7 linked regions of the Homo sapiens genome follow. The protein of the gene in region 3 purifies or fractionates together with the protein of the main gene of each other region. This does not show direct contact. Each region holds a gene or a part of one and is shown on either strand. Other genes may lie near its edges. The genes, in order: OXSM, IVD, LYRM2, BCKDHA, MRPL13, ECH1 and ALDH1L1.

Region 1 (3,958 bases), on a different chromosome or scaffold from region 3:
TGTAGGGGTAGGAAAGAATGCAGAGCACTCTACTTGGAAACAATGGCTTCAAGAGGCATTGCCCAGAAAAAACCATAAATATGACTAGAAGGTCCAGATGAAGATTCTATGCTCAACCATTTTTCTAAAGAAGAGCAAGGACAAAACTCACGCCTGGGATAGCATGTGAAAAACAGATGTTCGATGAATACCATCTTGTCGACTTCTTGCTTTTTTACATTTTCATGTTATATTTTCCCTTTATCGGTTTGCAGTCAGCTCTAAGCAAACAGTTAATGAATTTTTCACACTTAGAAACAAATGTCTCCATTGTGACAATGGAGACAATTTTTGAGCACTGTCTCAAATCTGGTGATAATTTTTTTTTAAGTGAAAGGAAGTTTATTAGGAAAGTAAAGGAACAAAGAATGACTACTCCATAGGCAGAACAGCCTGGTGACAACTTTTAAAAAGTAAAAACTTTATTACAAAAACATTTGTTTATTGTAGAAAAGCTTTATTAAATAAAGCTAAGCAAAAATAAGGAGGGAAAGATCACAATCAGTATACATCTTGCAGACCTTTAAAGAATTATTTTTGAAAAAACGGATATATACTGTTTTGTAACTATGTCTCCTAACAAATAGTCGCAACATCTCATTAATAAATATTCACCTGCAGAATTATTTTAAACGGCTGCATGGCATTTGGATGTACCACAAGATACACAACAAATTTCCTGATGTTGGCCATTTTGGTTAATTCCACTTTACTCACAATTACTAATAACGTTGCGAGCTATAGCAATAACTTTGAAACTGCAGAGAATTTCCTTAATTCTTTCTTACAATTCCAGTAGAATACGATGGTGTCCCTTCTCCGACAAAAGGGAATATTTGGGCATTATCACTGCCAAAGAAAAATGCCTTTTTGATGGGTGAAAATGCTACCTCATCGCGTTATTGGCAGGTCCTCGATTATCGGCGAGTCACTGAGGTTCCGAGAGGGGCGTCTCTGCTCACGCAAACAGCTACCCAGCCGCCTCCCACGGTCTGACCTCAGCCAAGGTGACGCGGCTTAAAGTCAACCGGCGGAAAGAGAGTCGAACGGGACGCGTGCGTGGGAAAGCGCATGAGCGTACGTGCGAGCGCGCATGAGCGTACGTGCGTGTGCGCGTGCGCTCGAGAGCGTCATCGCCCCCGACTGTGGAGAAGTGTCCGGGGTAGCCCCGTTACAGGTATCGCTGGCTACCCTCCTCCTTCGCCCCTCCTTTCCTCCTTTACATTCAAATCAAGTCGGGGTTGAATTTCGAGAGGGGAGTCCGAGGACCTGGGGCCTGATTTCTTTTTCTCTCGCCATGCTTCTTCGGGCTGTGTACATGTGTGGTGGTGCCTGAGAGGCGATACAGGGAATGGCTACACTCTTTTACTCCCGCCCCTGGCCTTCGTAGTACCCTTGAAGTGATCCACTAGTCGTAACCCCTCCTTCCACCAATGATTCAATTGGAGAAGTTTAGAGGAGTGGAAAGACTTGTCCCCTTCCCCCATCGCAAGCTTGGTCACAGAGTGTATTGCCAACCCATGTATCCAGACGCTCAGTCTAGGGCTCTTGGCCCTGGGTAGCGTTTTGAAAAGGCTGGTTATCCTTAAGTACTGAAGATTGATAAAGCCCACTTACTTACTTAAAAGAATATGCCCTGAAATGTGTTTTCTGTGCCACTGACACCAGAAATGCTATTTAGAAGAAGTTATCAGTAATCCTGACAAAGGATGCTTCCTGCAGCTCAAATCAGGCTGGAGGTGCCTTTATATTTTTCATTGAATTACTGTTTTGGTGACTCGAATGAATCATCAATTCATTTATTTGTCTTCAAATGTCTGACGGCACTTAAGGTCTAAAAAAGAAGGTAAGTTTAAACAGATAGTTTGATGTTAAGGTATAAATTGAAAGTATGTAACATTTTCCCTGTGTTCATTAGCAGCTCATATCAAGCACCCAAAGGAACACCTTGGATGTTTTTCCTTAGGCCCTTAAGCTATTTAAAAGAATACCTCCTAGGTGTGTTGTGGTCTTTTACAGGAATGTGTTTCTGATCATCTGAATCTTAATCATGTCCAACTGCCTGCAAAATTTCCTGAAAATTACAAGCACTCGTCTTCTATGTTCAAGATTATGCCAACAGTTAAGAAGTAAAAGGAAGTTTTTCGGAACTGTGCCAATATCCAGATTGCATAGGCGAGTTGTCATTACAGGCATTGGCTTAGTGACTCCTCTTGGTGTTGGAACTCACCTGGTTTGGGATCGTCTTATCGGAGGAGAGAGTGGAATTGTTTCACTGGTTGGTGAAGAGTATAAGAGTATCCCTTGCAGTGTTGCTGCTTATGTGCCAAGAGGTAGTGATGAAGGTCAGTTCAATGAACAAAACTTTGTGTCCAAATCAGATATCAAGTCCATGTCTTCTCCCACCATCATGGCCATTGGGGCTGCAGAATTAGCCATGAAGGATTCTGGCTGGCATCCTCAGTCAGAAGCTGATCAAGTGGCTACTGGTGTTGCAATTGGCATGGGAATGATTCCTCTTGAAGTTGTTTCTGAAACTGCTTTGAATTTTCAGACAAAAGGTTACAATAAAGTTAGCCCATTTTTTGTCCCTAAGATTCTGGTCAATATGGCAGCAGGCCAGGTCAGCATTCGATATAAACTCAAGGGCCCAAATCATGCAGTATCCACAGCCTGTACCACAGGAGCTCATGCTGTGGGAGACTCATTTAGATTTATAGCCCATGGTGATGCTGATGTGATGGTGGCTGGAGGTACAGATTCTTGTATTAGCCCTTTATCTCTTGCTGGGTTTTCCAGAGCCCGGGCTCTGAGCACAAACTCAGATCCCAAGTTGGCATGTCGACCATTTCATCCAAAGAGAGATGGTTTTGTAATGGGAGAAGGTGCAGCTGTGCTGGTGCTGGAAGAATATGAACATGCTGTTCAAAGAAGAGCCCGGATCTATGCAGAAGTTTTGGGCTATGGACTCTCAGGTGATGCTGGTCACATAACTGCCCCTGATCCTGAAGGAGAAGGTGCCTTAAGGTAAAGATGGGTTATTTCCTTCGAAATATTTCTTCAAATAAGACACTTTATTGGGAATCCCAAATTAGGGAAGTTGTAGTGTCTGGCCTTGGTGTACAGTATCTCTGTTGTTTTTCTTTTTTAGACTAAACAAGATTGTTTAGTTCTTTGCTTAAGACATTTGAAGTATTTCAAAGCATTTGAACATACTTACAAAAATTGCATTTGAGTTAAAAACCAATGGAGTTGTGGAAAAGACCATGTGTGTCTTTGCCAACTTTTCACGCCTGCATTTGTGCTTAAGCATCAGTGTGCTCCCTCACAAAGTCCTCCTCTTTGACCCTTCATCAGACTTGGAAAGTAAAGTCAACCCTTCTAGATGTGTCTGGTTTTGCTCCATTTCAACAGGATTCTGTTCTTTTCAAATCAGCACTTCTCAAACTATAATCACCTAGGGATCTTATTTAAAATGCTAATTCTGATTCTGTAGGTCTAGGGTGGTGCTTGAGATTCTGTTTTGTTTTGTTTTTTTAGAGACAGGGTCTCTCTGTATTGCCCATGCTGGTCTTATCTCACTGCAGTCTCTAACTCCTGGGCTCAAGCAATCCTCTCACCTCAGCTTCCTGAGTAGCTGGGACTACAGGAATGCGCCACTGAGACCAGTTTTCTTTTTTTTGAATTTGTTTGTAGAGATGGGGTTTCACTTTATTTCCCAGGCTGAGAGATTCTGTAGTTCTAACAGGTGATGGTGATACTGCTGGTTTAAGGACTACATTTAAGTTAACTGTTATAGATTAGTGCATTTAAAATGCAAAAAAATAAAAATAAAAAGTCCCTGATAATGTGTTAATAGATAGCTAATAGTTTAGCTTTCTTAAATCATATTATGTTTTACTCAGTTAAATTAGCCAGA
Region 2 (3,007 bases), on a different chromosome or scaffold from region 3:
TTCAACTTTCAGTCTCTTTTCTGGGGGAAAAAAATAATAAACCTAGCCTAGCCAGGCGTGGTGGCTCATGCTTGTAATCCCAGCACTTCAGGAGGCTGAGATGGGTGGATCACCTGAGGTCAGGAGTTCAAGACCAGCCTGGCCAACATGTGGAAACCTCGCCTCAACTAAAAATAGAAAAAAATTAGTTGGGCATGGTGGTGGGCACCTGTAATCCCAGCTACTTCAGGAGGCTGAGGCAGGAGAATTACTTGAACCCAGGAGGCGGACGTTGCAGTGAGCCGAGCTTGTGCCATTGCACTCCAGCCTGGGCGACAAGAGCAAAACTCTTCAAAAAACAAAACAAAACAAAAAAACCCTGGCCCTTGTTTCTTCCAGTTTCTAGAGGTATCAGCTCCTAGCAGCTTATGAACACATATGCTTGCTTGGCCAGGCAAGGTGGTGTGTGCCTGTAATCCCAGCACTTTGGGAGGCCAAGGCAGGTGGATCACTTGCAGTCAGGAGTTCAAGACCAGCCTGTCCAACGTGGTGAAACCCCATCTCTACTAAAAATACAAAAATTAGCCAGGGGTGGTGGTGCACGTCTGTAATCCCAGCTACTCAGGAGGCTGAGGCAGGAGAATCACTTGAACCCGGGAGGTGGAGGTTGCAATGAGCCAATATGACACCGCTGCAGTCCAGCCTGGGCCATAGAGTGAGACTCTGTCTCAAAAAAGGAAAGAAAAATAGGCTGGGCACAGTGACTCATGCCTGTAATCCCAACACTTTGGGAGGCCGAGGCAGGTGGATCACGAGGTCAGGAGTTCAAGACCAGCCTGGCCAAGATGGTAAAACCTCGTCTCTACTAAAAATACAAAAATTAGCCAGGTGTGGTGGCAGGCTCCTGTAATCCCAGCTACTCAGGAGGCTGAGGCAGAGAATTGCTTGAACCCGGGAGGCAGAGTTTGCAGTGAGCCAAGATCACACCACTGCACTCCAGCTTGGACGACAGAGCGAGACTCTGTCTCAAAAAATAATAGGCCAGGCATGGTGGCTCAACGTCTGTAATCCCAGCACTTTGGGAGGCCGAGGCGGGCAGATCACAAGGTCAGGAGTTCGAGACCAGCCTGACGACCAACATGGTGAAACCTCGTCTCTACTAAAAATACAAAAATTAGCCAGGCCTGGTGGCACGCGCCTGTAATCCCAGTTACACAGAAGACTGAGGCAGGAGAATCGCTTGAACGCAGGAGGCAGAGGTTGCAGGAGCTGAGATCGCGCCATTGCACTCCAGCCTGGGCAACAGAGTGAGACTCTGTCTCAAAAAATAATAATAAAATAAATGAACACACATGCTGCTGAGTCCGCAGGGGGGGCAGAGCAGAGGACAGCGTGCTTTTGTGTACTGTTGGAAGACTGGCTCCTCCTGTACAGCACCTCTGAGCCCTTGTGCACCGCCCTGCCACGGGCACCATCCAGTCCTGGCCGTGTGACCACCCACAGCTGACTGGGCAGCAGGCACAGGCCCTACCCGAGCAGGCCGGAGTTGGCTCGCATGACTCCAGCTGAGGCTGCCTGTGTACATTTCTCCAGATACCCTATGGCTAATTTTGTTATAACTGCACAGTGGCTGCTGCCATTTTGTATTAAATATATTGTGAAACAAACCTATCTGGGGAGAAGCAATCTACTTGCCGCTGCTTCCTGTCTGGATCCAGCTTGTGTCCTTGGAGAGTGGCTGGCCCAGGTCCTATTCCTGTCCTCCAGCCCGTTCTTTCATGAGGGACAGGAAGGTAAAATCAGCCCTTAGGAGAGAGGTCTCAGCCTCCCTTTCCCAGATCTCCCAGTGAGTTTTAAAGGAAGCAGGGAGCCCAGAGTGCTAAGTTCTTACAGCCAGAAGGAAGCTTATAGATTTCTGAAAACCGCCCCTTTGTTTTTAAAAAGATCAACACAATTTGACTTTCTCAAGGTCAAAACGAACTAGAATCCAGATCTGCTCATGGCAAAAATGGGGGTGTTCTGAGAATTCCAGCTTTGGGCCGCACTGTACAGCAGTCTGGATAGAGTGTGATCTGAGAAGGGAATGGGTCTGGGTTGTTCCACCCCTTCCGAGTTCCAAAAAGAGGGAACTGGTTTTCTTGGTTCTCAGCCCAGCAGCACCTATCCTGGCTCTTGGTCCTGGCCTGCAGCCAAGTGCTGTTCCTAGCCTGAGGCTTGAGACAGGTGGGGTTGGCTCCTCACCAACCCCAGTTCCGTCCCATCCTGAGGGCAAGATCCTGGGCTCATAGGCAGTCCCTTTCACTTCCTTGTCTTGCTCCCTGCTATGTTGGAGATGAATGTGACTAAAAGGGCCATCTTGCTGGCTTAATGTGTGGCTGGAGAGACCAGCCTGGAGACAATGTGGCAAAATGGGGCGCTTCATCCAGTCTGTCTAAGCCCTGTCGACTTGGGGAGGTGATTTCTTTCCTGGTTCTATATGTGAAGCAAAATAAATGTTTTAAAATTAAAAGCAAAAAAAACAAAATGAACCATGCAGCCTGAGTGGTAAATGGAAGAACAAGGGGCACGTCTACTTTGGTTCTTGTGGGCGTGTTTGGTTGCCTACATGCATTGGGCAAATCTGCAGCACCAGCTGCCAGCACTGCTCCTTCCTGCGGCTGGCTCTTACTCCACTCCAATTTTAGGCAGGTCACACTATCAGGGCAGCTCGCTGCTGTTGATGCTGCCTGCCCTGTGGGAGGGCAACAGAACCTTGGGATGTTTTTTAAGCGTGGTCTGAGCACACCCCTTATCAAAATTTGGCAACCTAGAATAAATGCAGGTTCCTGGATCCTGCCCCAGACCTAATCACATCCCCAAGGGTGAGTCTGCAAGGCAATCTTCTACAACCACCATCTGAGTCCTAAAGCAGGCTTCCCCAGGAGCCTAAGTCCTAATTCTAAATCCATATAATCTAGTGATAACAATCCCTTGCCCATGTAACCCTCTCAAGTCTGAGATCCTTGATCTTTGCACAACCGAGTGCAGG
Region 3 (4,075 bases):
TCATCATAAACGGACCCAAGTCATGAACAATTCACAAAAACAGTATAACTAAAAATGGCGAGGGGTATTTAACTTCACTCCTTTTAAAAAGTTAGCAATTAACTATTACAGCTAATGTATTAGACAAAATTTGGCATATATTATTGATAATATGATCATGCAGTTAGCATCATTCATACAATGCCTGGTAAAGTTCAAAAGAGCTAATGATTAGAGTTCTTACATGTGCCAGGACCTGTTCTCAGTACATTAGAGATACACAACTGAGGTAGATGCTATATTTCACTTTACAGGGGAGGTAATAGGCCAGGAGAGGGGAAATAGCCAGAACACAGCTAGGAATAGGGAGCCCCAGGATGCTAACAGGCGAGGCAAGCAAGTCCCCAGTAAACTAGTAATTGAACATTTTTCGTTCTATTTTAATTCGATACAACACCACTTGGAAAATTAATATGGCAAAGATTCGCTAACTCCACTTCTAGTGATTTAACCCAAAGGCATGTGTATTGTGGGAAAGATAAAACAACTATAAGGAAATAAAAGCAAAAGCCTGAGGCTTAGGGATGTTAGGCTCCTCGTTATTAGTGATGAAAAGTGCTTAAGACTGAAGTGGGTGAGCCATTCAAAGCTTTGTTTCAAATGATCATGAAGGCCACCGCTCCCGGAAAACCTTTGCGCTACAAAAGAACAGGACAAAAACGAGAAAGAGAAAAAACCAACACAAACTGTAAAAGAAATTAACACTTTCAATTTTAGTATTTTCAACTATACACATTTTTAAAGGCTCGAAAGAACATTTAAATACGTTTTCACCTCTTTCCCCCAAAAAAACCTTAACTTTTTTTTCGAGACAGGGTCTCGCTCTGTCGCCCAGGATGGAGTGCAGTGGTGCGATCTCGGATCACTGCAACCTTCACTTCTCGGGTTCAAGCGATTCTCCTGCCTCAGCATCCCGAGGAGCTGGGATTACAGGCACCTTACAGGCCTCCCAGAGTGCTTGGGACTGCAGGTGAGAGCCACCGCGCCCGGCCTCCTTCACTTTCATTTGAACTCTCTTTACCAGGAACTGTGTTAAGTGCCCTACCTTTCTTCTTTATCAAAACGACCCTATGGTGCACTGTTATCCTATTTTACCGACGAGAAAACTTCGGCCAGCGCAGCAGCTAGGGCTCAGTCCCGAAGCCTCGCGCTCTCAGTCCGAGAGCAACCCGCGGGCCGTCTCCTAGGAAACCGGGCTCGCCACACCCCTTGGTCGAACCCCACTTCCGCTCCTGCGCGCTGAGGCTCCGGCGGACCTCTGGTGGACATGGCTGCTTCCCGCTTACCCCCAGCGACGCTAACGTTAAAGCAGGTACCGGCGGTTCTCTGCCTTCCAAAGCAGCTTACCTGGGTCTGAGCTGGATTCTCCATCTGTCCCTATCCCCAACGGGGCGGGTTCCGGGGTCCTGATGCGGCGTGCGCGCCCTCTGAGATTGGCCCGATGCCTGCGGGGCGGTGCTTCGCTCCGCGGGGCCTGACGGGAGGCACTGGCTGCTTCCTTGGTTTGGTGCGATCGCGTGAGACAGCGTCAGGCGCTTGATTTCCCTGAGTCCCGGTGCCTCAGCTGCCCAGTGCCCACGGTAAAAGTCTATTGCACTGAGCTGTGGCAAACAGCAAATGAGATTACCAAAGATTTGAACAACTGTTAATTTAGAAAAAGTGCTGTCGTTGTAATAACAACTTCTAGGAGACCGGCAGCCCTTTTCAGCCCGGTAGGCAGCTCCTGATTTTTTAATGGTTCTTAGGTTTGACAGAGCAGTAAGCAAAAAGATCAGATGAACCTCGTGATGCTTTCTTTAAAACATCTTTTTGAGACAGGGCCTCACTCTCGCCCAGGCTGAGTGCAGTAGCGCAATGAAGGCTTACCTCAGCTTAGACCTCCTGGGCTCAAGTGATCCTCCCATCTTGGCCTCCCAAAGTGCTGGGATTACAGGCCTGAGCCACTGCATCTGGCCAAAAAAAGAAAAAAAAAAGTTTTTCTTTGCCTTTTTCAAAATTGACCAACGAGAAGTACTCTGGTTACAGCTTGGTTTGCTGAAGTAGAACTTTCCAGGCTGGCGATTGTGCAGTAGTAATTGCTATTTACTCCTCCCTTTTACAGTTCGTAAGAAGGCAACAAGTTCTTCTCCTCTACAGAAGGATTTTGCAAACAATTCGGCAAGTTCCAAATGATTCTGATCGCAAATACCTGAAAGATTGGGCAAGAGAAGAATTCAGAAGAAACAAAAGTGCCACCGAAGAGGTGAGAACAAAATCATGGTGAGGACAGATCCTAACCCTTTTTATTGATCAGTGAATTTTTTTTTTTAAGTTTAGCAGACATCTTGGAATATAGTGCCACTGAGCTGGTATATCTTGATCATTGCTTGTAATGTTACCGATTTTAAATTATTATTTTAAAATTTAGTATTTTAAAATATGTAGATAAAAGAGTATCTACACTCTTCAGCATCATCACTTGACTTTTATGTTGTACATTTTATATGTATGTATGTGGAACTCTTTTAGCTTTTCTAAAAGGCAGCAGTTCCAATAGGTAGTATTGGTTCTTGATTTTAACAGATAAAATGGTATAGCTATACCTTGTTTAACCAGGTAAAACTATAACCAGATTTCACTTTATTCTACAGGATACAATCCGGATGATGATTACTCAAGGCAATATGCAGCTCAAGGAGTTAGAAAAAACACTTGCTTTAGCAAAATCTTAACTATAGCATTATTCTGAAGGATTTTCAAAGTCTCCATGTGTTTTGTTGCATTTAGGATTAACAATGGACAACACAAAGCCCAGTCTTACTATTTATATGTACAGTATTTGGTGATAGAGAGCAAAGGAAAAACACATCAGAACAGTTGCCTTAACACTGAAAAACATACCCTGCATTTTGAAAATGTTTATGGATGTCTCAGCAGTTCTTAAAAGAAGAAAAAAACCACTAACAAATGGCCAGTAGATGCTGGACACAATCATTAGGGAAGTGTAAATCAAAACTACTATGAGGTCGGGTGTAGTGGCTCATGCTTGTAATCCCAGTACTTTAGGAGGCTGTGGTAGGTGGATCACTTGAGGTCAGGAGTTCAAGACCAGCCTGGCCAGCATGGTGAAACCTCATCTCTACTAAAAATACAAAAATTAGCTTGGTGTGGTGGTGCATTGCCTGTAGTCCCAGCTACTTGGGAGGCTGAGGCAGGAGAATCACTTGAACCCAGGAAGTGGAGGTTGCAGTGAGCTGAGGTCGTGCCACTGCACTTCAGCCTGGGTGACAGAGTGAGACAGTCTCTAAAAAAAAAAAAAAAAAACAACCCTGAGATTCACATTCACTAGAATGGCTGTAATTAAAAAGAGAAATAATAATAAGTCTTGGTGAAGATGTACAGAAATTACAGAACCCTCATACATTGCTGGTGGGAATGTAAAATGGTGTAGCCACTTCAGAAAACAGACGGTCAGTTCCTCAAAAGATGAAACAGCTGCTGTATGAGTTAGCACTTCTACCCCATGCCCATAGCCATTATTTGGCACTAAAAAGAAACGAAGGACTTATATATACTAAACATGGATAAACCTTGAAAACGTTAAGTGAAAGAAGCCGGTCACAAAAGATCACATGATGATTCCATTCATACGAAATGTCCAGAATAGGCAGAAAGATTAGTGGTTGCCTAGGCTGGCTGTAGATGGAATGGAGTAACTGCTAATGGGTGTAGGGTTCCTTTTCAGGGTGATGAAAATATCCTACAGTTAGCTTGTGGTGTAGGCTGCACAACTCTTGAATATATTCAAATCCACTGAACTGTACATTTTAAATGTAAGGTATGAATTGTATCTCAATAAAGCTGTTATTAAAAAACTCTTGAGGTGTAGGACTGAAAGTATACTGACACCAGGAGATACCCTGGAACTTTCTCGAAAAATCCTGCATTATCCCTGAGGGTTGTTCAGGTACGTTCTTCAGATGTGTCATAGTTTGATAGAGAACTCATCAAAAAGATCACCACTGGGAATCTAGATCTTTGTTGAAAAGGGAAGAGA
Region 4 (3,500 bases), on a different chromosome or scaffold from region 3:
GTGGGTCCCCAGTGCTTCCTGGAGTGCTCCAGGGGACCGCCCTAGGCCCATGTGAAATGGGCTGTGATCCCCTGATAAATCCTAGTATCAGGGACAAGGATCCAGTCAAGCCAGTGTCAACAAAGAGGGAAGTTATTGACTCCAATGACCATACATCCAGAGGGTCCTGTTTTGGGGCACAGCTAGATCCAGGGGGTCTTCCAGGCAGGAAGTAGAGGGAAGGCGGAAGGCCAGACATGGCACATCCCAGCTATCCCACACCCCCACCTTTATAGAGCTTTCTGGGTAGTCCCACCTAGTGACATCTGCATACATTTCCTGGGCCACTCCTAGCTGCAGGGGAGACTGAGAAATGTATTAATAATACTTTAGTCCCGGCAGTTGCTGCCTGCGGGAGATTGAGACCTCTGTTAACAGAGGAGGGGAATAGTATACTGGGAAGGCAACCAGGAGCCTCTGCCAGTAGCCCCGAGTCCTGATCCTCAGGGGGCTGGTTGCAGGCTCTTACCCACGCTAACCTGGACAGTCCTGCCAGGCCCTCAGTACTCAGCACCGCCCACTCACTTGGCACTGGAATGTGCATTAACTTTTAATTGGCTCCCCACTTAGAAGAAAGCACACATTCATCAGTTTCCCCCACAGCAACGGGAAAGCCAGGCCTGGGAACACATGGAGGAGGGCACCGCCGAGCCGCGAGGAGCTCTGGCCCCGGGGTGTCCCTCAGGGTGCTGGCCAGGCTGCCTTTGTTCCGCTTTACACATGGCCCTGTGTGATCTCATGTCCATCCGTATGCCAGGGCTGCCCAGAGCCCCAGCCAGACTGCTTGTCAGAGCCCTGCTTGGCTTCTCGCCCTGGATGTCCCACAGCAAACTAATCCTGTCTGAACTTGACCTCGACATCTTCCTCCCAGGCGTGCTCCTTTGCCTCACCTAGTCCGTTTCTCAGTGAAGAGCACCACCATCCACCTGCTTGCCCACACCAGAAACCTCATCTCATCCCTGTCTCCTCCCTCCCCCTTGCTATCCCTTTCTCCCCTCTCATTCCCTCTGTCTGTAGATATTTCTTTTTTTTTTTTTTTTTTACTTTTGAGATGGAGTTTTGCTCTTGTTGCCCAGGCTGGAGTGCAATGGCACGATCTTGGCTCACCGCCTCCCTGGTTCAAGCGATTCTCCTGCCTCAGCCTCCCGAGTAGCTGGGATTACAGGCATGCGCCACCACACCTGGCTAATTTTGTATTTTTAGTAGAGATGGGGTTTCTCCATGTTGGTCAGTCTGGTCTCGAACTCCCTACCTCAGGTGATCTGCCTGCCTTGGCCTCCCAAAATGGTAGGATTATAGGTGTGAGCCACTGCACCCAGCTGTAGCTACTTCTTTTCTTTTATGTTATTTTTATTTATTTATTTAGAGACGGAGTCCACCTCTGTCGCCCAGGCTGGAGTGCAGTGGCGCAATCTCGGCTCACTGCAACCTCCGCCTCCCAGGTTCAAGTGATTCTCCTGCCTTAGCCCCCCAAGTAGCTGGGATTACAGGCGCCCACCACCACACTCGGCTAATTTTTGTATTTTTAGTAGAGATGGGGTTTCACCACATTGGCCAGGCTAGTCTGGAACTCCTGACCTCAAGTGATCCGCCTGCCTTGGCCTCCCAAAGTACCGGGATTACAGGTGTGAGCCACCGTGCCTAGCCTGTCTGTAGATACATCTTTAGGAAGTGCTCAGCTGCTCAGCAGCACACTCTGAGACCCAGCCCCATCCTTTCTCTGCTTCACTGTTGTTGGTGAGTTGACCTTCGTGCTCTGCTTGTGGCCTCGTGTTCACAGCATGGCTGCTGCATGTCCAAGCTTCATGGCTGTCTGCAAGGCAGGAAGAAGTAGGGAGTGGGTAGGGCTGGCACCAGCAGCAGTGGTCTCTTCTATCCAGAAAGCAAAAGCAGACTTCCACCAAAATATCTGGCTAAAACTGTGTCCCATGGCCACCTCTGGCTGCAAGGGAGGCCAGGGACCTGAGTGCGTGTCTTTTTGAGGCTCAGGTTAGGGGATTTGGGAGAAGGGAACTGGGCACTGGTGTGGCCAGCTGACAGGGTCTGCTGCCCCCTAGCACAGCCGACTCAGCTTCCTCAGACACATCCACCTGCTCCTCTCCCGCCTCCCTCTGCTACCAAGCTGGGCCTCTGCCCCCTCTCTCCTGGCTTGCTGCAATCAGCCTTGATGACTCCATCCATTTACCTCACTGCAGCCTGAGAGCAATTCTAAAACACAGGTCTGACCACATTGCTCCCTTGAGAAGACTGTCGGCAGGTTACCACTATTCTCAGAGTAAAATCAATGTATCGTTCCCTTTGTTATCTGGGTGCCATCTCCTCTCCCTCCTCATCTTTCCCCACCCCTACCACTGTATGTCCCAGCCCTTCTGGCCTCATGGTCTATCATTCCCTCTGCCTGGAACCCTCCACCCACCCCATCTTTGCGCACTGGTCCTCACCGATGCCCTTCCGTGGTGGAACAGGTGCTTCCTTTGGGCTTCTATCACAGCAACTCGATCCCTCTGGCAGTTCTAAGCAGTCTGGCAGCGTCTTCTTAAAGGCAGGAACCCCAGCATGGCCTGGCCCAGGACTGGCCTTCAGGAGGACTGTGAATTCATGGAGGTGTTGGAAGCTGGGCAGGATTTGGATGGCTCTCTGTCATTGCCCAGCATAACCAATTGTGGGACCCCGGTCCCCTCTACACCCCCAGGGCCGGATCTCCTTCTACATGACCAACTATGGTGAGGAGGGCACGCACGTGGGGAGTGCCGCCGCCCTGGACAACACGGACCTGGTGTTTGGCCAGTACCGGGAGGCAGGTACGTCTGTCCGTGGTTTGGCCCTGTGGTCCCCATTGAAGTGTACACTTTAGTTTTTCTGAGTGTTCTTCCAGGAGCAGCATAGTGCCAGGAAGGTCTAAGGAGCTGGAAGAAGAGCTTTCCAAGCAAGAAAGAGACAAGCCAGGGTTAGGACTCTGGAGGGGGCAGTCTTCCCACTCTGAAGGCCAGAAAGTGTAGTGGCTCAGGGTCTGTGCTCTTAACCCTTTGTTACCAGTTGTCAGGTTTTGGGCAAGTCACTTCCCTTCTCTGAGCCTCAGTTTTCTAATCTCCAGAAGAGGGATTATGACGGTACCTGCATCCAAGGGTCGCTGGGAGGATGCAGTGAAGTCAACGTTCGCTGTGGGTGTGGCCTGTGCAGGAGACCCTGTCTGCCTGGTGCAGTGATCCCCTGGCCCCTCCTCAGGTGCTGTATCCTTCGGGGAGCAGGAGCAGGTGGAAGAACCTTGACAGACCTGAGTGCGGTGCAAGATTAGAGGGGCCCGGCAAGCCCAGATGAGTGAAAGGAAGGAAGGGTCAAAGACCAGGAATGAAGAAAATCATTGAGCAGGAATGAGTGCCTGGGAGCGAAGGAGTGAGCCCAGGGAGCAGTGAGTGGGGTCTTCCAGGGAGCTTGTTGGTGTGGGGCCCTGCATGGGGACT
Region 5 (3,500 bases), on a different chromosome or scaffold from region 3:
TTTATTTGATGTAATTTTAGTAAATAAAATTACGTGTTAGTGAATAAAATTACGCTACCTTCATATGGCTAGTGTCTACATTATTGGACTATGCTATTTTAGTTATTGGACTATGCCATTTTATAAAGTTCTATTAAATATTATATACTTTAGAATTAGAATTAAAATATTTGATATGCCATGCAGTTCAATTCATGGAACATGAGGTTTTTATTATTAAAGGATTGCCTTTATTAGAAAAAAATTTTTTTCTCCTTTTGGAGAGGACCTTGCTTAAGATATGCTTTTGTTCTACCCAACATAGCTAAGCCAAGAATATAATTTTCCTTTGGAATGTAGTAACTGGAATTTGTTTAAGATAAATCTGATGGTGAATCTGCAGAGACTTGACTGAAACAAATGTACCTGCATTGCGCCACAAGTATATAGCCACAAAAATAGCTTGCTCTGGTGTTTGCTGCCCTAGTAATAAAACTTAAAATATGTTCATAATATTAGAATGTACATCTTATAATTTGAACTATTATTAATATTTGGTTAAATATAAGTTTATTAACTTTTCTATTAGAGACTAAAAGCTTCTGAGCAGCAGAAACAATTATCAAAGAGCTTTGAACCCAGTAGATGATTAACAAAATTGCTTTAATCTTAATTAAAAGCTAGCATTGTTGGGATTTTATTTAAATTATTTTAAATCATCTTCAAAGATTATATTCTTTCAGGCCTAGTTTCAGCATACATTAGGTTTTCTTTTGCTAGTTGTTGTTCAGTCATTAGTTATTGTCATTTTTAAGCTATGGTAGGAGATAAGGAATGAAATTGATATTTATGACAAAACTATACTTTTTTAAAACTAAAAGCCATTTTATATATACTATGGGTACTATTGCCCATTCATCTCACTTCTTAAGTTAGTGGATATTCTTGGTGTATTAGTATATTTTACATAAATCATGGATACATAAATTTTGTGAAAATATGTTAGGAAGTTTATTTTATATTTCTTGACTGTACAAAGCAGATATGTATTTGCAATGTGCAAATGGTGACTGTGGGGTTTATACTTAGATTTTTTTTCTTTTTTCTTTAAAGGAAAAAAATAGCACTATCTTTTCTTCACAATTCTGTTGCTTAAGATTGTAGCTTTAAAATGGTCAATTTATTTTAATACTATCAATTGTTACATGATTATTGCAGTTTTGCCAACACATTTCACAACCCCAATAATCATGGAAATTAATCATGCTCATTGTAAGGGAAATGTTTCAAAATGTAGTCTACAAATAAAACTTGGATCATTTTAAACTTTATTTTCAAGTTTTGCAAAATGATGCAGGAGAGCTTTTCCTAAGGAAAACTACGTATGTGAAAAAATTCAACTTGAATTGCTTTGCATTATTTTTCCTTACATGTTAATTCAGTAAGAAATGCTTGTTTTAAGCAAAACTCTCACCTTTGTAGAGAAGCTAACCATGGAAAGCTTCAGCATCAATACATGCTTGAACACAGGTTTTTATAACAGAAACCTGTGTTCCTGGTGTTTCAGTACTCTAGAGTGTGCTATTAGAAATGTGCCTGCAAAGGAGAGATGGATGGTAAGGATGAAGACAAGGAAGTATGAGGACAACCATTACTGATGCAGAACTGTCTCTTCGAAAGTAGGATGAGGATTAGGGAGTTCAATATGTGATCCATTCAGCTCTGTAAAAGAAAAGCTGGATTCCAGATGCTGGGAACATTAGCACTGCATTGGTGAGCATCCTCTTCAGTCTATAGCTCTAGAAGAGAGCACGGATTTAAGCTTAGTGCATATTCTCTGATATGAAAGCTGTTAATCCTAAAAACTACCCATTTTCAGATTTACTTAATACTCAGAAAAAGATTATTTTTACCTATGCCTTTATAAAACATGCTTCAGATCAGAGACTTAAAGACAATGTAGAAGGATTTTTACCTTTTCTAATCCATAAGTTGCTGGGATCTGGACAGCTTTAAGATTTTCCATAATTTTCTTCTAGTCTAGTCATGTGGCATTTTCTCCACACAATTTAACTTAATTTGCTGCTCTTCACAGTCAGCAGTTACTAGCTGGACTTGTGGACTAAGGTTACTTTCCAACTTTCCTACCTATTTCAACCAGTTCAGCATTGACTTCAATGATAGACTTCAGTCTTTCCAGTCCTGGGTTTTGCTCAAATTAGGCATTCTAAGCTGTACTGTTCTTTTGGATGTGAATAGATCAGGACTGGCTAGTAAAATAAAAAAGTAGTCTCTATTTAAACAACAAAACCCAAATCATTTATAAGTCCTAGCTGATACAGATTTTGACTAAAAAAGTGCAGTTGAATGTAATGGCAATTTCTGTTCATTTTAATTGAAAAAATCATTTGGCAAAAATTTTCAACAATCTTACAGGTTTAGTTTATTTAAAAGTATGTTGATCTGTAGGTCTGGATCTGAAAGGGAAGAAACAAAAAAGAATAATCAAGAAAGGATTTAAAAAAACATTTTATTTAAATGTATGTTGAGCTTTTTCGGATCAGGATGGTGCTACAGTGCCTAGGAAAATTAGTATTAAGGCACCATTACTTTACCTCTCAGTATAGCTAGCATCTTTAAAGAATATGTGATGTCACCAGATTTCCTGAAATGGTTTATTCTAAATAATTTCATTCATTCAATGGAAGTGACTTAAAACTCAAACTGACCTTTTATCGCTTTTAAGATTAGTTCACCATCCAAATATTATTTTAGTCTTTTAAATGTTTCATAGAATAAGCATTATACTAAGAAATATTATGTAAGAGTGAAAAGACATAAAACCTATTGAAGAAAAAAATTTTTTTGAGATTTATTACACTTAAGCTACACTCAATTTCCTGGACTTACAGCTGAAATAGGGAATTTTTTTACTTGAAAAATAAATTATTCTTAGTAGGACCAATAATGTATTTTTTGTTTTGTTTTGTTTTGTTTTGTTTTGTTTTGTTTTGTTTTGTTTTAGATGGAGTTTTGCTCTTTTTGCCCAGGCTGGGGTGGTGAAATGGCGCGATCTCGGCTCACTGCAACCTCTGCCTCCCGGGTTCAAGCAATTCTCCTGCCTCATCCTCCCAAGTAGCTGGGATTACAGGAGCCCGCCACCACGCCCAGCTAATTTTTTGTATTTTTTGTAGAGACTGGGTTTCACCATGTTGGCCAGGATGGTCTCGATCTCTTGACCTCATGATCTGCCCACCTCGGCCTCCCAAAGTGCTGGGAAGTAGGACCAATAATGTTAAGTGTCACTTATCTTAATGTAGCATAAACCATGTGCTTCATAACTTGATGTTTTGTTTCATTCACAACCAAGTAAATTTTTCCTACCATTTTATAATACAAACTAAAATCTCCGAAAAGTTTTTTCCTAATGTTAAGAGGTGAGAAATTACTCCATTTTCAAGATAATATAAATGTTTTGACTTCTGTCATTTCTGAATTCTGAATTTGAATCTGCTTTTTTG
Region 6 (3,500 bases), on a different chromosome or scaffold from region 3:
GTCAACAGATGTTTACGACTCCAGTCCCCATGATCTAAGTCAAGGTCCCAGTGGGGATCCATACTGGGGATGGCTTGCTGACCGATAGGGAATTTGTCCCTTTCTTCAGGTGTCATTCTATCATTTACTTGATTAAGATTCCAGGTATCTCCAAACTCTCAGGCTGCAGCTAAAGCTGCATTCTTTTCATTAAAGGCCAGGGTTTGATCTAACAGTAGCATGACATCTCTCCAAGCGAGGTCGAAAGTTTGCCCTAGACCCTGTAGGGCATGTATGTACCTATCAGGATCATCTGAAAACTTCCCCAGGTCTGCCTTGATCTGCTTTAAATCAGAGATGGAGAAGGGGACATGTACCCGGGTGGGACCAAATTCCCCTCCCCCTACAGCTTGAAGGGGACATAACCAATAGCCAGGAGGGTTTTGTGGTCCTTTGGAGATTTCTTTGCATATTTCCTTCTGGGCAGGGGAGATTAGAGGAAGATTATCATTAATAGGAATGGGAGCTATAGGGAGGCTAGGATATGGTGGTAAGCTGAGAGGTCCTCCTGTGGGATGTAAATTGTAAGCTTTGCATAGTTGTGTATTCTCCCTCCATGAAAAGAAAGCTTGGACATAAGGTATTTCACTCCATTTGCCTTCCCTCTTACAGAAAAGGTCAAGCTGCAGGATAGTATTGTAATTTGTACTTCCCTCAGGTGGCCATTTTTCCCCATCAGAGAGAGAATACTGGGGCCAGGCCATAGTGCAGAAAAAAAATGAGCCTCCTCTTTTTCAGGGTTTATGGGTCAAATTGGTCCCAACGGCTTAGGATGCATTTCAAGGGTGAGCCTGTTGATGGCTGAATGTTTCCCATCTGAAAGACAAAACCACCCGCGGTTTTGGTTTGTTTTGTTTCTCCCCCTGCCCAAGAAACTGCAACAGTCCCTGTACCCTGCTGATCGGAATAGTTGTGCTCATCAACGCAGCAGCAGAAACACTAGTTTTCCTCTCAGACCACATGGAGGACCAAGGAAGGTCGGATTTAGTGGCCCTTACCGACGCATTCTTGAAAACCTGTTAGAGTTCTAAGCATTCTCCTGTTAGTATTGGGACTTTACCCCTGTCCTATAAAGATGTTATGCCCCAAAAATGAAGTGGAGGGCCATACCCTGAGGGAGGGAAGGGATCTCCAGGGTTGGAAGAGTGACACCTTTTGTCCTCACTTATATGAATAGGAAAGCTACAATTTCTGAGGCTCCCCATATCCTAGCTTCAGGAATACCTTTGTTAGGCCTGTTAGTCTGAGGAGGGATCGTAAAATTCCAGGTAGTCGCCACTATGACAGGGCTTTGGGCAAAAATTATGTCTTTCTGATTGGTGAGCCTGGGTGCCTAAAGAATGTAACAGAGTTCTAGAAGTCGTTCTTATAGGAGAAACTAGAAAAGCACCAGAGACAGCAAATTTTAGAAGCAGGACTAAACTCGGAGAAGAGAGGTGAGAGGAAGTTTGTCTGGCAGGCATTAGGACCCGGGGGCAAGAGTCAGGATAGATAGGATAGATGGGCGAGTCTCGCTTGGGCGACATGCCTTTGAGTGTTCCGCTCATGGCTGCAGGGTCAACGAACTTGTTGTCTTGTCGGGACCCTAGAGCTGCATGGCTTTCCTCTCTGTCGACCCTCGGCTCAGCCCAGAAGTACAGGAAAAGCAGAAGCTGGTTCTAGGCAAACCAACGCTCCCAACTCCAAAGAGTCGGGAGTTGTTAGAGAGCCCTTTCCCAGAAAGCCTGACACCCATGTCTTTAGTCCAGCGGCCATGCTAGTCACTTTTAACTGGCAGACAGGTGCCTGGTATTTAGCCCCCAAATTCTAAGGAAAAATAGGACAGAATAGCAAGTGAAAGGGGTCCAGTGGTACTCACTGCTTGGCGATAGGTGATAGTCTCACCGCTCAGCGATAGGCAGTGGTCTCACCGCTTGGCGATAGGTAATAGTCCCATCTGGGTCACCAAAATGTATCCGGAATTGGTGGGTTCTTGGTCTCACTGACTTCAAGAATGAAGCCGCAGAATCTCGTGGTGAGTGTTACAGTTCTTAAAGGCGGCATGTCCGCAGTTTGTTCCTTCTGATGTGTTCGGAGTTTGTTCCTTCTGATGTTTGGGTGTGTTCAGAGTTTCTTCCTTCTGGTGGGTTCGTGGTCTCGCTGGCTTCAGGAATGAAGCTGCAGACCTTCGCAGTGAGTGTTATAGCTCTTAAGGCGGTGCGTCCAGAGTGGTTCGTTCCTCCCGTCCGGAGTTGTTCATTCCTCCCAGTGGGTTCGTGGTCTTGCTGGCCTCTGGAGAGAAGTTGCAGACCTTCGCGGTGAGTGTTATGGCTCATAAAGGCAGTGTGGACCCAAAGAGTGAGCAGCAGCAAGATTTATTGCAAAGAGCAAAAGAACAGAGCTTCCATAGCATGGAAGGGGACGTGAGTGGGTTGCCACTGCTGGCTCGGACAGCCTGCTTTTATTCCCTTATCTGTCCCCACCCACATCCTGCTGGTTGGTCCGTTTTACAGAGAGCTGATTGGTCTGTTTTACAGAGAGCTGATTGGTCCATTTTGACAGGGTGCTGACTGGTGCGTTTACAATCCCTGAGCTAGACACAAAACTTCTCCAAGTCCCCACTAGATTAGCTAGACACAGAGCACTGATTGGTGCATTTACAAACCTTGAGCTAGACACAGGGTGCTGATTGGTGTATTTACAAACCTTGAGCTAGACACACAGTGCTGATTGGTGTATTTACAATCCCTTAGCTAGACATAAAGATTCTCCAAGTCCCCACCAGATTAGCTAGATACAGAGTGCTGATTGGTGCATTTACAAACCTTGAGCTAGACATAGGGTGCTGATTGGTGCATTTACAAACCTTGAGCTAGACACAGAGTGCTGATTGGTTGTTTACAATCCCTTAGCTAGACATAAAGAGTCTCCAAGTCCCCACCAGATTAGCTAGATACAGAGTGCTGATTGGTGCATTTACAAACCTTGAGCTAGACACAGGGTGCTGATTGGTGCATTTACAAACCTTGAGCTAGACACAGAGTGCTGATTGGTTGTTTACAATCCCTTAGCTAGACATAAAGTTTCTCCAAGTCCCCACCAGATGAGCTAGACACAGAGCATTGATTGGTGCATTTACAAACCTTGAGCTAGACACAGGGTGCTGATTGGTGCATTTACAAACCTTGAGCTAGAAACAGAGTGCTGATTGGTGTATTTACAATCCCTTAGCTAGACATAAACGTTCTCCAAGTCCCCACCAGATTAGCTAGATACAGAGTGCTGATTGGTGCATTTACAGTCCCTCAGCTAGACATAAATGTTCTCCAAATCCCCACTAGACTCAGGAGCTCAGCTGGCTTCACCCAGTGGATCCTGCACCAGGGCCGCAGGCGGAGCACTCCTCAGCCCTTGGGCAGTTGATGGGACCAGGCGCCGCCGAGCAGGGGGTGGCGCTCCTCGGGGAGGCTCGGGCTGTGCAG
Region 7 (3,500 bases), on a different chromosome or scaffold from region 3:
GGAGTGCAGTGGCACGATCTCGGCTCACTGCAACCTCCGCCTCCCGGGTTCAAGCAATTCCCCTGCCTCAGCCGCCCGAGTAGCTAGGATTACAGGCATGCACCACCACGTCCGGCTAATTTTGTATTTTTAGTAGAGCCTCCATGTTGGTCAGGCTGGTCTCGCACTCCTGACCTCAGGTGATCTGCCCACCTCGGCCTCCCAAAGTGCTGGTATTACAGGCGTAAGCCACCGTGCCTGGCCAGTACCCACTAACTGATAGATCCAGCAGGCTGGAAATCAGTAAGGACATAGTTGAACAGCACCATCAATTAAGTGTATCTAATTGGCATTTAGAGAATACTTCACCCAACAACAACAGAATACACATTCTTCTCAAGTTCACATGGAATATTCATCAAGACAGACCACATTCTGTGCCATAAAACATACAACAACAAATATCAATGACTTCTATGATGGAGATTACTGAGATCACAACAGAATCACTAGAAATCAATAACAGAAAGATATCTGAAAAACATTAAAAAAATGGAAACTAAATGACACACTTCTAAACAACATGTAAACAAATCAAAGAATAACTCTCAAGAAAAAATTTAAAATATTTCAAACTAAATTAAAATGAAAATATAACATCAAAATTTATGGGATGCTGCTAAAGTAGTGTTTAGAGGGAAATTTAGAGCACTGAATGCATATATTATTAAAGAAGAAAGAGCTAAAAGCAAGTTTCCAAATTAGGAAACTAGAAAAAGAAGAGCAAATTAAATCCAAAATAAACAGAAGAAAGGAAATAATAAAAATTACAGCAGAACTTGTGAAATTGAAAACATGCTGTCAATAGAGAAAATCAACAAAACCTAAAGCTGGTTCCTTGAAAAGATGAATAAAACTGAGACACCTCTAGCCAGGTTAACTAAGAAGAAAAAGAGAGAAGACTCAAATTACTAATATCAAAAATGAAAGAAGGGCCATCAATACTGATCCTACGGTCATTAAAAGGATAATAAAATACTAGTATGAACAACTCTATATCAACAAATTTGGTAAGTTAAATGAAATGAAACAATCCCTTGAAAGTACAACGTTCCAAAACTCACACAAAGAGAAATAGATAATCTGAATAGGCCTATACTGATTAAAGAACTGGAGCCAGTAGCCTTCCAAAATAGAAAGCACTAGGGTTAATGAATATGACTAAACATTTAAGAAAGAAATTATGCCAATTCTCTATGATCTCTTTCAAAAAATAGAAGTAGAGGAAATTCTCTAATTTTCTTGGGTCAGAATTACCCTGGTACCAAAACCAGAAACATTACAAGAAAGGAAACTAACAGATCAATATTTCTCATAAACATAGATGTTAAAATCCTCAAAAAAATCAGCAATTGAATCCAACAATGTTTAAAAAGAATTATACATAACCACCACATGGGATTTATTCTAGGTTAAACATTTGAAAATCAATTAATGTAATCCATCGCATGAATAGGCTAAGGAAGAATTATATGATCACATCAATAGATCCAGAAAATGCATTTGACAAGAATCTAACATTCATTTATGATAAGAGCTTTCAGCAAGCTAGTAATAAATGGGAACTTAACTTGATAAAGAAGATCTATGAAAAACCTACAGCTAACATCATACTTAATGGAGAGAAACTAGAAGCTTTTCCCCTAAGATCAGAAATAAGGCAAGGATGTTCCCTTTCACCCTTCCTAGTCAACATTATACTGGAAGTGCTGGCTAATGTAATTAGAAAAGAAAAGAAAATGAAAAGTCTACAGATTGGGAAGGAAGAAATAAACTGTTCTTGTTCTCAAAAAACATAATTGGCTATGTGGAAAATGCCAACAAAGCAACAGAAAACTGGAAATAATAAGTTATTCTGCCAAAGTTGCTGGATGTAAAGTCATGGTTAATATACAAAAATTGATTACTTTCTTATATACTAGCAATAAACAATTGAAATTTGAGATTAAAAACACAAAACCATTTACATTAGCACCAAAAAGTGAATTATTTATACATAAACCTAAAATAGGTCAAAATCTATGTGAGAATAACCATAACTGATGAAAACATAAAAATATGTATAAATAAATGAAGAGATAGTACATGTTCATGGGTAGGGAAACTCTATACTGTCCAGATGTCAGTTCTTTCCGACTTTATCTATAGATTCAATGCAATCCCAATCAAAACCCCAGCAGTTATTTGTGGATATCAACAAACTGATTCTCAAGTTTATTTGGAGAGACAAAAGACCTGGGATAGTCAACACAATATTGAAGGAGAACGAAGTTAGAGGACCGATACTGCCTGTCCCCAAGACTTTACTATAAAGCTACAGTAATCAAGACAGTACGGTATTGGCAAAAGAATAGTCAGATAGATCAATTGAACAGAATAGAGAGCCCAGAAGTAAACTCACATCAATACAGTCAACTGAACTTTGACAAAGAGACAAAGGCAAGACAATGGAGAAAATCTGCATTGCACAAAAATCACACAAATATCTGTACACTGATGTTTACAGCATCTTTATTTGTAACTGCCAAAACTTGGATTTGACTTTTTAGATACAACAACAACAGCACAATTCATGGAGGAAAAAAAATGGTACATTAGACCTTATTAAAATTTAAAACTTCTGCTCTGCAAAAGACACTGTTAAGAGAATGAAAAGACAAGCCATGGTTGGGGAGAGAAGACATATCTGGTAAAGCACTGTTATCCAAAATATACAAAGAACTATTAAAACTCAACAGTAAAACAAACAACCCAATTTTAAAATGGGCCAAGTAAATTAACCGACATTCACAAAAGAAGATATACAGATGGCAGAGAAGCATTTAAAAAGATGCTCAACACTGTAAGTCATTACAGATTGCAAATTAAAATATAACAATGAGATACTACTATATGCGTATTAGAAGAGTTAAATTAAGAGCACTGACAACAAATGCTGATGAGGCTGTGGAGCAACAGGAACTCTTATTTATTACTGGTAGAAATGAAAAATTATGCCACCACTATGGAAAAAGGTTTGGTAGTTTTTTATAACACGAAACATACTTTTACCATGTGATCCATCAATCGCTCTTGATATTTACTCAAAGGAGAAGAAAACTAATGTCCACACAAAAACCTGCACACAAATGTTGATAGCAGCTTTATTCACTGCTAAAACTTGGAAGCAACCAAGATATCCTGTAGTATGTGAATGGAGAAATAAACTGTGGTACCTCCACATCCATACAACAGAATATTAGTCAATGATAAAAAGAAATGGGTTACCAAGTCACAGAAAGACATGGAGGATGCTTAAATGCATTTTGCTAAGCGAAAGAAGCCAGTCTGGAAAGGCTATATACCATATGATTCATACATACTATATGACATTCTGGAAAAGGCAAAACTACAAAGGCAGTAACCAGTGGTTGCCAGGGATAGGTAGGGGGGTTGGGGGGTGGATGGGTAGAGCACAGGAG

The links.
Region 1: the proteins of LYRM2 (region 3) and OXSM purify together in Homo sapiens (affinity purification with mass spectrometry; 2 studies listed by BioGRID and IntAct, with this or other methods). This does not show direct contact.
Region 2: the proteins of LYRM2 (region 3) and IVD purify together in Homo sapiens (affinity purification with mass spectrometry; one large-scale study listed by BioGRID and IntAct). This does not show direct contact.
Region 4: the proteins of LYRM2 (region 3) and BCKDHA purify together in Homo sapiens (co-immunoprecipitation; one large-scale study listed by IntAct). This does not show direct contact.
Region 5: the proteins of LYRM2 (region 3) and MRPL13 purify together in Homo sapiens (affinity purification with mass spectrometry, with the first as the bait; one large-scale study listed by BioGRID). This does not show direct contact.
Region 6: the proteins of LYRM2 (region 3) and ECH1 purify together in Homo sapiens (affinity purification with mass spectrometry, with the first as the bait; one large-scale study listed by BioGRID). This does not show direct contact.
Region 7: the proteins of LYRM2 (region 3) and ALDH1L1 purify together in Homo sapiens (co-immunoprecipitation; one large-scale study listed by IntAct). This does not show direct contact.

Annotation. Positions count from the first base shown.
Region 1 is NC_000003.12:25,788,932-25,792,889, forward strand, and holds the start of OXSM (3-oxoacyl-[acyl-carrier-protein] synthase, mitochondrial isoform 1 precursor), read left to right. Parts: upstream 1-1,158; 5' UTR 1,159-1,216; exon of another isoform or gene 1,217-1,885; intron 1,886-2,058; 5' UTR 2,059-2,089; coding exon 2,090-3,066; intron 3,067-3,958. UniProt on the Homo sapiens protein: May play a role in the biosynthesis of lipoic acid as well as longer chain fatty acids required for optimal mitochondrial function.
Region 2 is NC_000015.10:40,418,802-40,421,808, forward strand, and holds the end of IVD (isovaleryl-CoA dehydrogenase, mitochondrial isoform 1 precursor), read left to right. Parts: 3' UTR 1-378; coding exon of another isoform or gene 379-401; 3' UTR 402-2,507; downstream 2,508-3,007.
Region 3 is NC_000006.12:89,635,948-89,640,022, reverse strand, and holds the start of LYRM2 (LYR motif-containing protein 2), read left to right. Parts: upstream 1-1,275; 5' UTR 1,276-1,306; coding exon 1,307-1,351; intron 1,352-1,386; exon of another isoform or gene 1,387-1,491; intron 1,492-1,537; exon of another isoform or gene 1,538-1,751; intron 1,752-2,140; coding exon 2,141-2,281; exon of another isoform or gene 2,282-2,298; intron 2,299-2,669; coding exon 2,670-2,750; 3' UTR 2,751-4,075. UniProt on the Homo sapiens protein: Involved in efficient integration of the N-module into mitochondrial respiratory chain complex I.
Region 4 is NC_000019.10:41,411,318-41,414,817, forward strand, and holds part of BCKDHA (2-oxoisovalerate dehydrogenase subunit alpha, mitochondrial isoform 1 precursor), read left to right. Parts: intron 1-2,731; coding exon 2,732-2,840; intron 2,841-3,500. UniProt on the Homo sapiens protein: Together with BCKDHB forms the heterotetrameric E1 subunit of the mitochondrial branched-chain alpha-ketoacid dehydrogenase (BCKD) complex.
Region 5 is NC_000008.11:120,407,151-120,410,650, reverse strand, and holds part of MRPL13 (large ribosomal subunit protein uL13m), read left to right. Parts: intron 1-3,500.
Region 6 is NC_000019.10:38,821,795-38,825,294, reverse strand, and holds part of ECH1 (delta(3,5)-Delta(2,4)-dienoyl-CoA isomerase, mitochondrial precursor), read left to right. Parts: intron 1-1,897; exon of another isoform or gene 1,898-2,455; intron 2,456-3,500. UniProt on the Homo sapiens protein: Isomerization of 3-trans,5-cis-dienoyl-CoA to 2-trans,4-trans-dienoyl-CoA.
Region 7 is NC_000003.12:126,174,087-126,177,586, forward strand, and holds part of ALDH1L1 (cytosolic 10-formyltetrahydrofolate dehydrogenase), read right to left. Parts: intron 1-3,500. UniProt on the Homo sapiens protein: Cytosolic 10-formyltetrahydrofolate dehydrogenase that catalyzes the NADP(+)-dependent conversion of 10-formyltetrahydrofolate to tetrahydrofolate and carbon dioxide.